Regions from separate parts of the Homo sapiens genome. Here region 1 is linked to region 2. A link means that fine-mapping ties the variant in region 2 to the expression of a gene that starts in the linked region. Tissue or cell type: whole blood. Region 2 holds a variant in brackets; the other region holds the start of a gene. All regions are shown on one strand. Distances are between the middles of the regions. Region 1 holds the start of CABP5 (calcium binding protein 5). Region 2 has its middle 6.2 kb from the start of SNAR-A12.

Region 1 (5,377 bases), 140 kb before region 2:
TCTCAAAAAAAAAAAAAAAAAAAAAAAAAAAAGGAAAGAAAAGGGGGGATTTAGGGGAGGGAGAGCATTATGACAAATACCTAATGCATGCAGGGCTTAATACCTAGGTGACGGGTTGATTGGTGCAGCAAACCAGCATGGCACATGTATACCTATGTAATAAACCTGCATGTTCAGCACATGTATCCCAGATTTGAAATAAAATTCTTTTAAAAAAGGGGGGGGGATTTAAAGACAGAGACAGGCATGTATACAGAGAGGAAACCATGTGAACATGGAAGCAGGGATTGGGGTGAGGCTCTACTGACCAAGGGCCGCCAAACTATTGCCAGCAAACCACCAGTCATCCGAAAGAAGACCTTGATAGCAGAAGGATCCTGTTCAGAATTCTGTGTTGCATTCAGTCGTAGCTTTTTTTTTTTTTTTTTTTTTTTTTTGGACAGAGTTTTGCTCTTGTTGCCCAGGCTGGAGTGCAATGGCACGATCTTGGGCTCACTGCAACCTCCGCCTCCTGGGTTTAAGCGATTCTGCTGCCTCAGCCTCCCGAGTAGCAGGGATTACAGGCATGTGCCACCATGCCGGGCTAATTTTTTTGTATTTTTAGTAGAGACGGGGTTTCTCCACGTTGGTTAGGCTGGTCTCGAACTCCTGACCTCAGGTGATCTGCCCACCTCAGCCTCCCAAATTGCTGGGATTACAGGTGTGAGCCATCGCGCCCAGCCTCGGCCATGTCTTCTTAGTCTCCTCCAATCTCGAACGGTTCCTCAATCTTTCCTTGATTTTCATGACCTTGACATTTTTGAAGCTTACAGGCCAGTTATTTTGTAAACCATCCCTCCATGTGGGTTCGTCTGACGTCTGATTATGATGAGATTCAGGAATCTTACAGAAGCGATGCTGTTCTCGTGACATCCTGTCAGGTGGTGTGAAATTCCAACTTGTCACATTACTGATGATGTCCACTTTCATTGACTAAGATGGTGTTTGCCACGTTTCTCCACTATAACGTAACTCCTTTGAAATTGGTATTTTGTAGGGAGGTATTTTGAGCTCTGTAAATATCAAACTTCTCACTTAGCTTTTTATTTATCTGAGTATGGACTCCTGGTTTCTTCTGTGGTCCTGTATAATTTGTTACTATCATTATTTATTTTGACTCTCAAACTGCCCAGTATGGCCAATGGAGCTTCTTCAAGCAGACTCCTGTGTTCTTTCCACATGTTCTCACAACACTTTGAGCAATTTCTTGCTTTAAGCATAGGACGTTTGTAGGCTCATCTTGTTCTTTTTTTGCTCTAGACATGGAATCAGCCAAATTTCCTAGGCACTCTGGTTCCATTTGGTGGAGAATGGTATATAGAAGTCAAGATTTGGATGCTAGTGGTGCTCATTCATATGGGCCATCATTGTTTCTATGTTCTCTTAGTGGAGAGAGCTAGAGAATATGTGTACAAATGTTCCTATACACACTGAAACTATGTGTTTATTTTTATCTCTCTATGTATAATTGAGATCCATGAGGACATACCAACGCCTCCAGTTATAGTCCAACACCACAGGGCTCATTCGACTTTCCTCCTTTCTGTCTTAGTAACTCCCTTTTCCAACAGTAGGAGACCTGGCCCCCATTCCCCTTACTCACTGTGTGTAGCCAATTTCCCTTTTCCTTTGCCATTTCACCCCTGTGGGGATGTCTTTCCCAGCCTAGTCTGGCTTCAACACCATACACCATGCTATTCCCATGAGTGGACATTTCTCTCTCTGCTTGGGTTATGACAACCCATGCCAGATCCCCTCTATGTGGCCTCCTTCCTAATTGCCTTACAGTGCAAACCTCCACCCCAGACAATGCCTGCATATAAATGCCCCCGCCCCACTCAGCTCATGTTCCAACACTGCACACCAAGCTGCCCATCTGTGGATTTATCCCCACCATCTCCAGCCCCAACACCCTGGGTCATGCTGCCCCTCTATGTGGACTTCTCCTCACCCCACTACCCCACTGGAATGCTGGCTCTCCACGCCAGATGGCCCCCAGCCCCCTCCTCCCCTAACCCTACCTAGTGTGGAGTCGCAAAACCCCTTTGGGCTTTGACACCACCATAACTTCACACCCTCCCTGACACCCCCACCTTGCTTTTTCCCTCTAAATCATTCAGGAAAGACAGAAGGAAAGAGATGAACAGAGGAAGAGCAAATGCCATGCTCTTAGTCACCGTGTACGCCCACTTCCTGAAGTCCATGCTTGCATCCTGCTCACTCTCACACATTCCCGACTCACCCAGGAAAACTCCCTGAGGCCAGGGGTGCTGAGCTCTCCATCTCACTGCCCAGAGGCCAGTGTTGGAGTGACCCTTCACATGCTTGTTGGAACATTGAATAAATGATGCCGTCTGCTCTAATCCTCCATTTTCTTTTCTTTTTTTTCTTTTTTTTTCTTTTTTTCGAGACAGGGTCTCACTATGTCAGCCAGGCTGGAGTACAATGGTGCAATCGTAGTTCACTGCAGCCTGGAGTGCAATGGTACAATCATAGCTCACTGCAGCCTTGAACTCCTGGGCTCAAGCAATCCTCCCATCTCTGCCTTTGGAGCAGCTGGGACTACAGGTGTGTGCCACCATGCACGGCTAATTTTTTTATTTTTTGTAAAGACAGCCTCTCCGTATGTTGCTCAGCTGGTCTCAAACTCCTGGGCTCAAGCAATCCTCCCACCTCAGCCTCCCAAAGCGCTGGGACTACAGACATGAGCACCACATCCAGCCTCTAATCCCCATTTATAAAATGCACTTTCCAATTCCACTCTGGGGATAAAGGCGTCACAGAACCTGACTCTGCATTTCCCCACCCATATCATTCAAGCCAGATGGGGAGGCAGGGACAGCTCTGGTCCCTCCCCAACCCGGGTAGAGATTTCCAGCCCAGCTGTCACAGCTCTAAGACACCGGGACCGAAGGAGAAGCCAAGAGAGGCAGGAAGAGGTGGCAAAGGAGTGCTGGAGAAGATAAGGAGGCTGAGCTCCGACAGGGAGCAGGGAGGAGGGGCCATCTTGAGACTGGTGCCCTGCGAGCTCCACCCCACCCCTCCATGCAGTTCCCCATGGGCCCCGCCTGCATCTTCTTGAGGAAAGGCATTGCTGAGAAACAGCGGGTGAGGTGGGGAGTGAGGGGGAAGGGCGGTGGGCGGGGCAAAGGGAGCAGGGGTGTGGGACAAAGAAGGGGACATGATGGTGCCACAGAACCAGGGGAACAGGTGGATAGAGCAGGAGCTGAGAAGGTATAAGAAATTCCAAGGACCCTGGTGGGGTCATGTAAGCCAGTGAGATAAATGGGTGGGGGTAAAATCAAAAGTCAGGAGCAAAGAGAAGGAGAGAAAAGGAAGAAAAATGAAAAGGGAAAGTGGGATGATGTCATTGTTGAGATTACCATCATTCTTTTCTATGGATGCTCATTGTGATAATGGTGGTGATGATGGTGGTGGTGGTGATGATAATGATGACGTTAATAACAATAGCTGCCACTTATTAAGTCATTGTTCTGTGCCCAGCCCTGTGCAAAGGGATTTGCACACCTGATGTTATTTACACCTCAGAACAACTCATGAGGTCAGTGACTTTCATTCCCATTTTACAGGTGAGGAAAGTGAAGCTCTGAGTCATGAAGTCATTTGCCTTAAGCTTACACAGTTAGTAAGTGGCAGGGTCGGCCAAGTATAGTGGCTCATGCCTGAATCGCAGCATCTTGGGAGGCAGAGGCGGGAGGATCACTTATGTCCAGGAGTTTGAGACCAGCCTGGGAAACACAAGACCCCATCTCTACTAAAAATACAAAAAAATAGCTCAGCATGGTGGCATGCATCTGCAGTCCCAGCTACTCAGGTGGCTGAGGCAGGAGGATCGCTTGAGCCCAGGAAGTGGAGGCTGCAGTGAGCCCTGATTATGCCACTGCACTCCAGCCTGGGCAACAAAGTGAGACTTTGTCTCGTTAAAAAAAAGTAAGTGGCAGGGTCGGGTTTGCTTGATTCCTGTGGGCATGCTTTTTAAAATTTTTTTATTTTTCCATATATACCAACTTGTCCAGATATGTGGGCATACTTTTCATTGTTAGGCTTTAAGATCACCAAAAAAAGAGAATAAAAAAGGCCAGGCAGTGGCTCACGCCTGTGATCCCAGCCCTTTGGGAGGCCAAAGCAGGTGGATCACGAGGTCAGGAGGTCAAGACCAGCCTGGCCAAGATGGTGAAACCCTGTCTCTATTAGAAATACAAAAATTAGCCGGGTGCAGTGGCAGGCGCCTGTAATCCCAGCTACTCGGGAGGCTGAGGCAGGAGAATCGCTTGAACCCGGGAGGCAGAGGTTGCAGTGAGCCGAGTTCGTGCCACTGCACTCCAGCTTGGGTGACAGAGCGAGACTGTGTCTCAAAAAAAAAAAAGAGAGAGAGAATGAAAAAAAGGGTGATAAGGGACCGCAAGGAGGGGATCAGATGAAAGAGAAGCTGAGGGAAAGGCTCCAGGGATAAAGGGAGATGGGAAGGCTAAAGAGACCAGAGGTCAGTAGAATTTCCTTGTTAACATGCCATGTATATGTAAGCCCAACCCTTCAGGTATGTGCAGGAGTAGGTGGGGCAGCAATAACTGGACATTCTCAGAGTGTTTAGGAACTGGTCATGCTGGCACTGACCCTCCTGCCTGAAAGCCATTGAATGCTGTTTCCATGCACAGAGATTCTAACCTTTGGCAGGAAGATTGGAGGCAGGTGAGAAAGGAGTGAATGGGGGCTAGTGTGAAGAATTCTGACTTGGGAGTCAGGAGCCCTGAATTCAAATCCCAATACTGTGTCTGACTTGCCCCATGACCTCCAGGGAGCAGGTGAATGCCTTCCTCCCTTGGGAGGGGATCTGCTGCTTGTGAGCTGTGTGACCTTGTGCAGGTTCCTTAACCTCTCTGTTCCTCAGCTTTCTCATGGGTAAGATGGAAACGAGATGTAGATCTGCATCACAGAGCAGTACTGAGGTTTAAATGAAATGATTGTGGAAACTGCCTGGCACAGAGTCACCACTCTGAATGAGTTAGCTGTGGTTGTGAAGTCTCACTTTTTTCATCTGGAGATTGGACTCCCCAGTGTTTAAGACCCCCTTTGACACAATGTGATGGGTGTTTGTCTCAGAAAGGGAGAAAAAGGGAGATTGGGATTCGTGGGTGGGAGAGAGACATCGAGAGGGGGGTGGGGAGCCAAGAACTGTGGAACAGGAGTCAGGAGATGGGAAAAGGAATGGGAGGGATGGAGGAGGAGAGAGAGAATGGAAAGAGAACCACGAGAGCGTGGGGAGGAGCTTGGGAGAACAAGGAGACCCTTTGGAGAATGGGTGACCCTCTCTCCAAAT
Region 2 (5,377 bases):
TGCAGTGAAGGGCAGCTTTTTGCATCCACGGCTTTTTGTTGCCAAGGAGGAATGTGCAGTGGCCAGATTTGTTTCTTCCCCTTTTGTTGCTGTTTTGTTGTTGCTGCTGCTGTTATTGTTGTTGTTGTTGTATTTTATTTTGTAGCATCCTAAAGTGTCCCCTCCTTCTATTTCTTATCCTTATCCAGGTAGGGTTTAGAAAAGCTAACTTAAGGGGCAGGGGAGAGAGAGAAAGAGAGGAAGAGAAAATGAGAATGAATGACAATACATGAACCCATGGGTCAACCTTTATTTCAAGGCAGCCCAAAAGGACGGCTCTCCCTTCTCTTTCACTCTCTTCTCTAGGTGTGAAGCTGATGCAGCACAGGCGAGCCCCAAAATTGAGGCTTAGCCCGGGGGGGTTCTTGGCTTCTCCTAGAAACTAATTCAAGAAGCCGGGCGCACTGGCTCACGCCTGTAATCCCAGCACTTTGGGAGGCTGAGGCGGATGGATCACTTGAGGTAAGGAGTTCGAGACCAGCCTGGCCAACATGGTGAAACCCCATCTCTACTAAATATACAAAAATTACCCGGGCATGGGGACGGGTGCCTGTAATCCCAGCTGTTCAGGAGGCTGAGGCAGGGGAATCGCTTGAACCCGGGAGGCGGAGGTTGCAGTGAACAGAGATCGTGTCACTGCACTCCAACCTGGGTGAGACTCTGTCCTAAAAAAAAAGAAAAAAAAAAAAAAAAAGGCCAGGCGCGGTGTCTCATGCCTGTAATCCCAGCACTTTGGGAGGGCAAGGTGGGCAGATCATGGGGTTAGGAGTTGTAGACCAGCCTGGCCAATGTGGTGAAACCCCGTCTCTACTAAAAATAGAAAAATTAGCCAGGCGTGGTGGCATGTGCCTATAGTCCCAGCTACTCAAGAGGCTGAGGCAGAAGAATCACTTGTACCCAGGAGGCGGAGGTTGCAGTGAGCCGAGATCGCACCACTGCACTCCAGCCTGGGTGAGACTCTGTCTCAAAAAAAAAAAAAGGTGCATTAAATGTTGCCTGGAAGGTGCAGGGATTGAGGGGAAAGGGACATGCTGTGTTTGTGGCATGCAGGAAGGGATTGTGGGAGAATCCCTGTGAGGAAGCAGAGGACCTTTACCCCTGGAAGATTCACATAGCCGCTACCTAATTCTAAAGACAAGTCCCCTAGAAATTTGGTAAGACAATAGTAAAATAACCTTTTGGATCTCAAAAATCTGTAGGACTCTGTGTATGGATGGGAACTGTCTGAAGGTCATTAAGGTTAATGACGTGAAGAACGGAGTTCAGCACTTTGTTCTATCTCTCGGGTGCCTGAACATTCTGTTCAAAGCAGAAACAGAACTTGATCTGCAAGTGCCACTTAATGGAGCATCACTGGTCCCCTGGAGCAAAAAATGTCCCCAGGACTGCTTTTCCTTCCTCCCATCCCCGGCTGAAATGTTCACACTCACTGCGGCTTCTCTAGTAAGAATATCTGCAGATTCTGCAGATCTTCTGGCAAGATTGATGAACCTGAGAGAAATATCAACGAAAATGATACAAAAGTATGCAGATTTCTTTCAGATGCAAACGTTTGTTTGTTGTTTTGTTTTTTGTTTTTTTTTGTGTGTGTAACAGAGTCTCACTCTGTCACCCAGGCTGGATTGCAGTGGCACAATCTCGGCTCACTTCAACCTCCGCCCTCCGAGTTCAAGCAATTCTCCTGCCTCAGCCTCTGGAGTAGCTGGGATTACAGGAGCCTGCCACCACGCCCAGCTAATTTCTGTATTTTCAGTAGAGACGGGGTTTCACCATCTTGGCCAGGCTGGTCTTGAACTCCTGGCCTCGTGATCCACCCGCCTCGGCCTCCCAAAGTGCTGGGATTACAGGCGTGAGCTACCATGCCCCACCACAAACGTTTGGCTTATTAATTTTTGTTTATATGGTTAGAGAAGAGTACAGAATGGGAGAGAAGTTCTGGGTTCTGTATTAAAAACTCACTGTTGGCTGGGCGCAGTGGTTCACGCCTGTAATCCCAGCACTTTGGGAGGCCGAGGCAGTTGGATCACCTGAGGTCAGGAGTTGGAGACCAGCCTGGCCAACATGGTGAAACCCCATCTCTACTAAAAATACAAAATTAGCCTGGAGTGGTGACACATGCCTGTAATTCCAGCTACTCGGGAGGCTGAGGCAGGAGAATTGCTTGAACCCGGAAGGCGGAGGTTGCAGTGAGCCGAGATCTTGCCATTGCACTCCAGCCAGGCAATAAGAGTGAAACTCCCTCTCAAAAAAAACAGAAAAAGAAAAGAAAAAAAAACGAACTCACTGTTTCTGGATTCTGTCCTCCCTAACAGGCACCTTACCTTAGAGAGCCTAGAACCCTCAAGGTCCCCAAGGATGTGTGGGATTTGAGTACCGTTGTTGGACATCTTCAGCTTTGTGCAATAGAACTGATGAACATCAACTAATAGGGAAGGCCCACGTAGCTCTGGAGGAAGCGGGGCCATGTAGAACTAAAGAGCACTGTATTAGCTTCCTGTGCCTGCCAGAGCAAACCACCACACTATCGTGGGTTATTCTCTCACAGTGCTGGAGGCCAGAAGTCCAAAATCAAGGTATCGGTCAGGCCACATTCCCTCTGGAGGCTCTGGGGAAGGATCCTTCCTGGTCTCTTCCAGCGCCTGGTGGCTGCAGACCTTCGGTGGCTTATGGCTGCAACACTCCAGTCTCTGCCTCCAACTTCATGTGGCCTTCTACTCTGTGTGCCTGTGTCTTCTCCTCTTTTTTATCTCATAAGGATACTTGTTATTGGATTTAAGGCCCACCAGGTAATTAATGATACTCTCATCTTGAGATTCTTCACTTGATGCCATCTGCAAAGACCCTTTTTCCAAATAAGGTCACATTGGTAGGTTCCAGAGGTTGGGACGTGAACGTATCTTTTGGGGACCATAAGTCACAGATTACAAACACAGA[C/T]TTGGAATGAAAGTGCCTGGGATCAAATCCCAGCTCTGCCACTTAGGAGCTACATGACTTCGTAAAATGATTAACCACTCTGAACACCCCCTTTTTTAACTCTAAAATAGAGATAATAATAGTTCCCTGGTATGTATGAAAGCATTTATGAAACATCAAGTATTGGCATTTTGTCCTCACTCCTACCTGACTTTATATATTTGATTTCAACTCAACCTCAGATTCATTTCTCAGATGTGATCCATTGAAATTTCAGGTTGTTCTATGTTAGTGAAGATATTTCCCTCCCGACACATCAAGCGCTCAAGCCTTTCTGCCCTCACCTCACTGCAGCATTGAGAAAACCAGTTGTTTAAATTAAGTGAAATTTGGCCTAAAGCTGCCTCCTTATGTGGCAAACTGTAACCTAACAATATATAAACAAACTTCAACCAAACTTAAGAGTAGATGGCTGGGCACGGTGGCTCACGCCTGTAACCTCAGCACTTTGGGAGGCCGAGGCAGGCAGATCATTTGAGGTCAGGAGTTCAAGACCAACCTGGCCAACATGGTGAAACCCCCTCTCTTTTTACAAAAAAAAAAAAAAATTAGCCGGGCATGGTGGCGTATGCCCGTAGTCCCAGCTACTCGGGAGGTTGAGGCAGGAGAATCGCTTGAACCCGGGAGGCAGAGGTTGCAGTGAGCCGAGATCCTGCCACTGCACTCCAGCCTGGGTGACAGAGCAACACCCTGTCTCAAAAAAAAAAAAAAAAAAAAAAGAAAGAAATAATTGAGGGAGTGAGGCTACAGATAATGATATATGAAGCAATCCCACTGGTTAAGCACTTAATCTCCAAAGGTGTTCGTATTTTGTCACAAAAGGTATATATGTAGTCAGAAGAACAATCATATAGAATAAGAGAGAAATTCTGAATTCTGTGTTGAGAACTTACTGTGTTTGGTTTCTGTCCTCCCTTCCTAACATCTTCAATAGCCTGAAACCTTAGCTCCATTAAGGACATCTGGGCACTGGTGCATGTTTTAGGGATCTTAAATTGAGTCTGGGCTTATATGCAGAGGGGAAATTATTGGACAAGATGGGGCCCAGCCCATAGTTAGTGTTCGTATAATTCACCGAGTATCAAATAAATGAAAGGATCAGAAGAGTAAATCTGTGGCATAGGATAAGGGGACAGTTAGCACTCTCCAGGGAAACAGAATCAACAGGAAAGTGATTGATTTCAAGAAATTGGGCTGGGTACGGCGGCTCATGCCTGTAATCCCAACACTTTAGGAGGCAGAGGTGGGTGGATTGCATGAGGTCAAGAGTTCAAGACCAGCCTGGCCAGTATGGGGAAACCCCGTCTCTACTAAAAACACAAAAATTAGCTGGGCATGGTGGCGCACGCCTGTAATCCCAGCTACTTGGGAGGCTGAGGCACAAGAATCGCTTGAACCCAGAAGGCGGAGGTTGCAGTGAGCTGAGATCGTGCCACTGCACTCTAGCCTGGGCGACAGAGCGAGACTCTGTTTCAAAAAAAAAAAAAACACGGCAGGGAGGAGTAAAGAAATTGACGAAATTGACTCATGCAGTTGTAGAGGCTGGCAAGTCCAAAATCTGTAGGGCACGCTGGAAGTTTGGAAGCTTAGAGAGGATTTGATGCTGCAGTCTTCAGGCAGAATTTCTTCTACAGGAAACCTCTTTATGTTCTTAAGGCCTTCAACTGATTAGCTTGGGCCCACCCAGGTTATCGCCATTCATCTCCTTTATTTAAAATCAACTGATTGTAGATGTTAACTGTGTCTACGAAATACTGTCACAGCAACACCTAGGCTAGCATTTGATTAAACAAGTGGGTACTGGGCCGGGCACAGTGGCTCATGCCTGGGAGGCTGAGGCAGGTGGATCACCTGAGGTCAGGAGTTCAGGACCAGCCTGGCCAACATGGTGAAACCCCGTCTCTACTAAAAATACAAAAATTAGCCGGGTGTGGTGGCGGGCACCTGTAATCCCAGCTACTCAGGAGGCTGAGGCAGGAGAATTGCTTGAACCCGGGTGGCAGAGGTTGCAGTGAGCTGAGATTGTGCCACTGCACTCCAGCCTGGACGACAGGGCAAGATTCTGTTAAAAAAAAACAAAAAACTGCGTACTGCAGGCTAGCCAAGCTGACACAAAAGTCTAAACATCACAGACATCATCAGGGTCAACCGGTAGAAATTAAAGGACTTAAATTAGTGTTTCAGTAGGCATGCTTGAACCGGAATAGACACTGTGGGGGGAGGGGCGTGCAGAGTTCTGTGCATCGACTGCTGACTGCTCAGAGTCAGGAAACAAACCATACATATTCTGTTTGCCCCATCTGGGCTATGCCACTATAGTGTCTTGCAATACATCCTAACAATTAGGAACCCTATTAAGGTTGGT

What was found. PIP is the estimated chance that this variant, and not a neighbour inherited with it, causes the effect.
Region 1: CABP5 starts here. The variant in region 2 is the best candidate, but not a certain one, in a credible set for the expression of CABP5 in whole blood (TOPMed, PIP 0.87).

Annotation. Positions count from the first base shown.
Region 1 is chr19:48,041,630-48,047,006 of GRCh38, reverse strand. It overlaps CABP5 (calcium binding protein 5), which reads left to right and starts at 2,928. Exons shown (of 6, transcript NM_019855.5): 1 at 2,928-3,147. The coding sequence starts at 3,085.
Region 2 is chr19:47,898,805-47,904,181 of GRCh38, reverse strand. No RefSeq gene overlaps it. Among named protein-coding and RNA genes, the nearest start is that of SNAR-A12, 6.2 kb to the left of the region's middle. The variant C/T (reference allele first, on the strand shown) is at 2,974.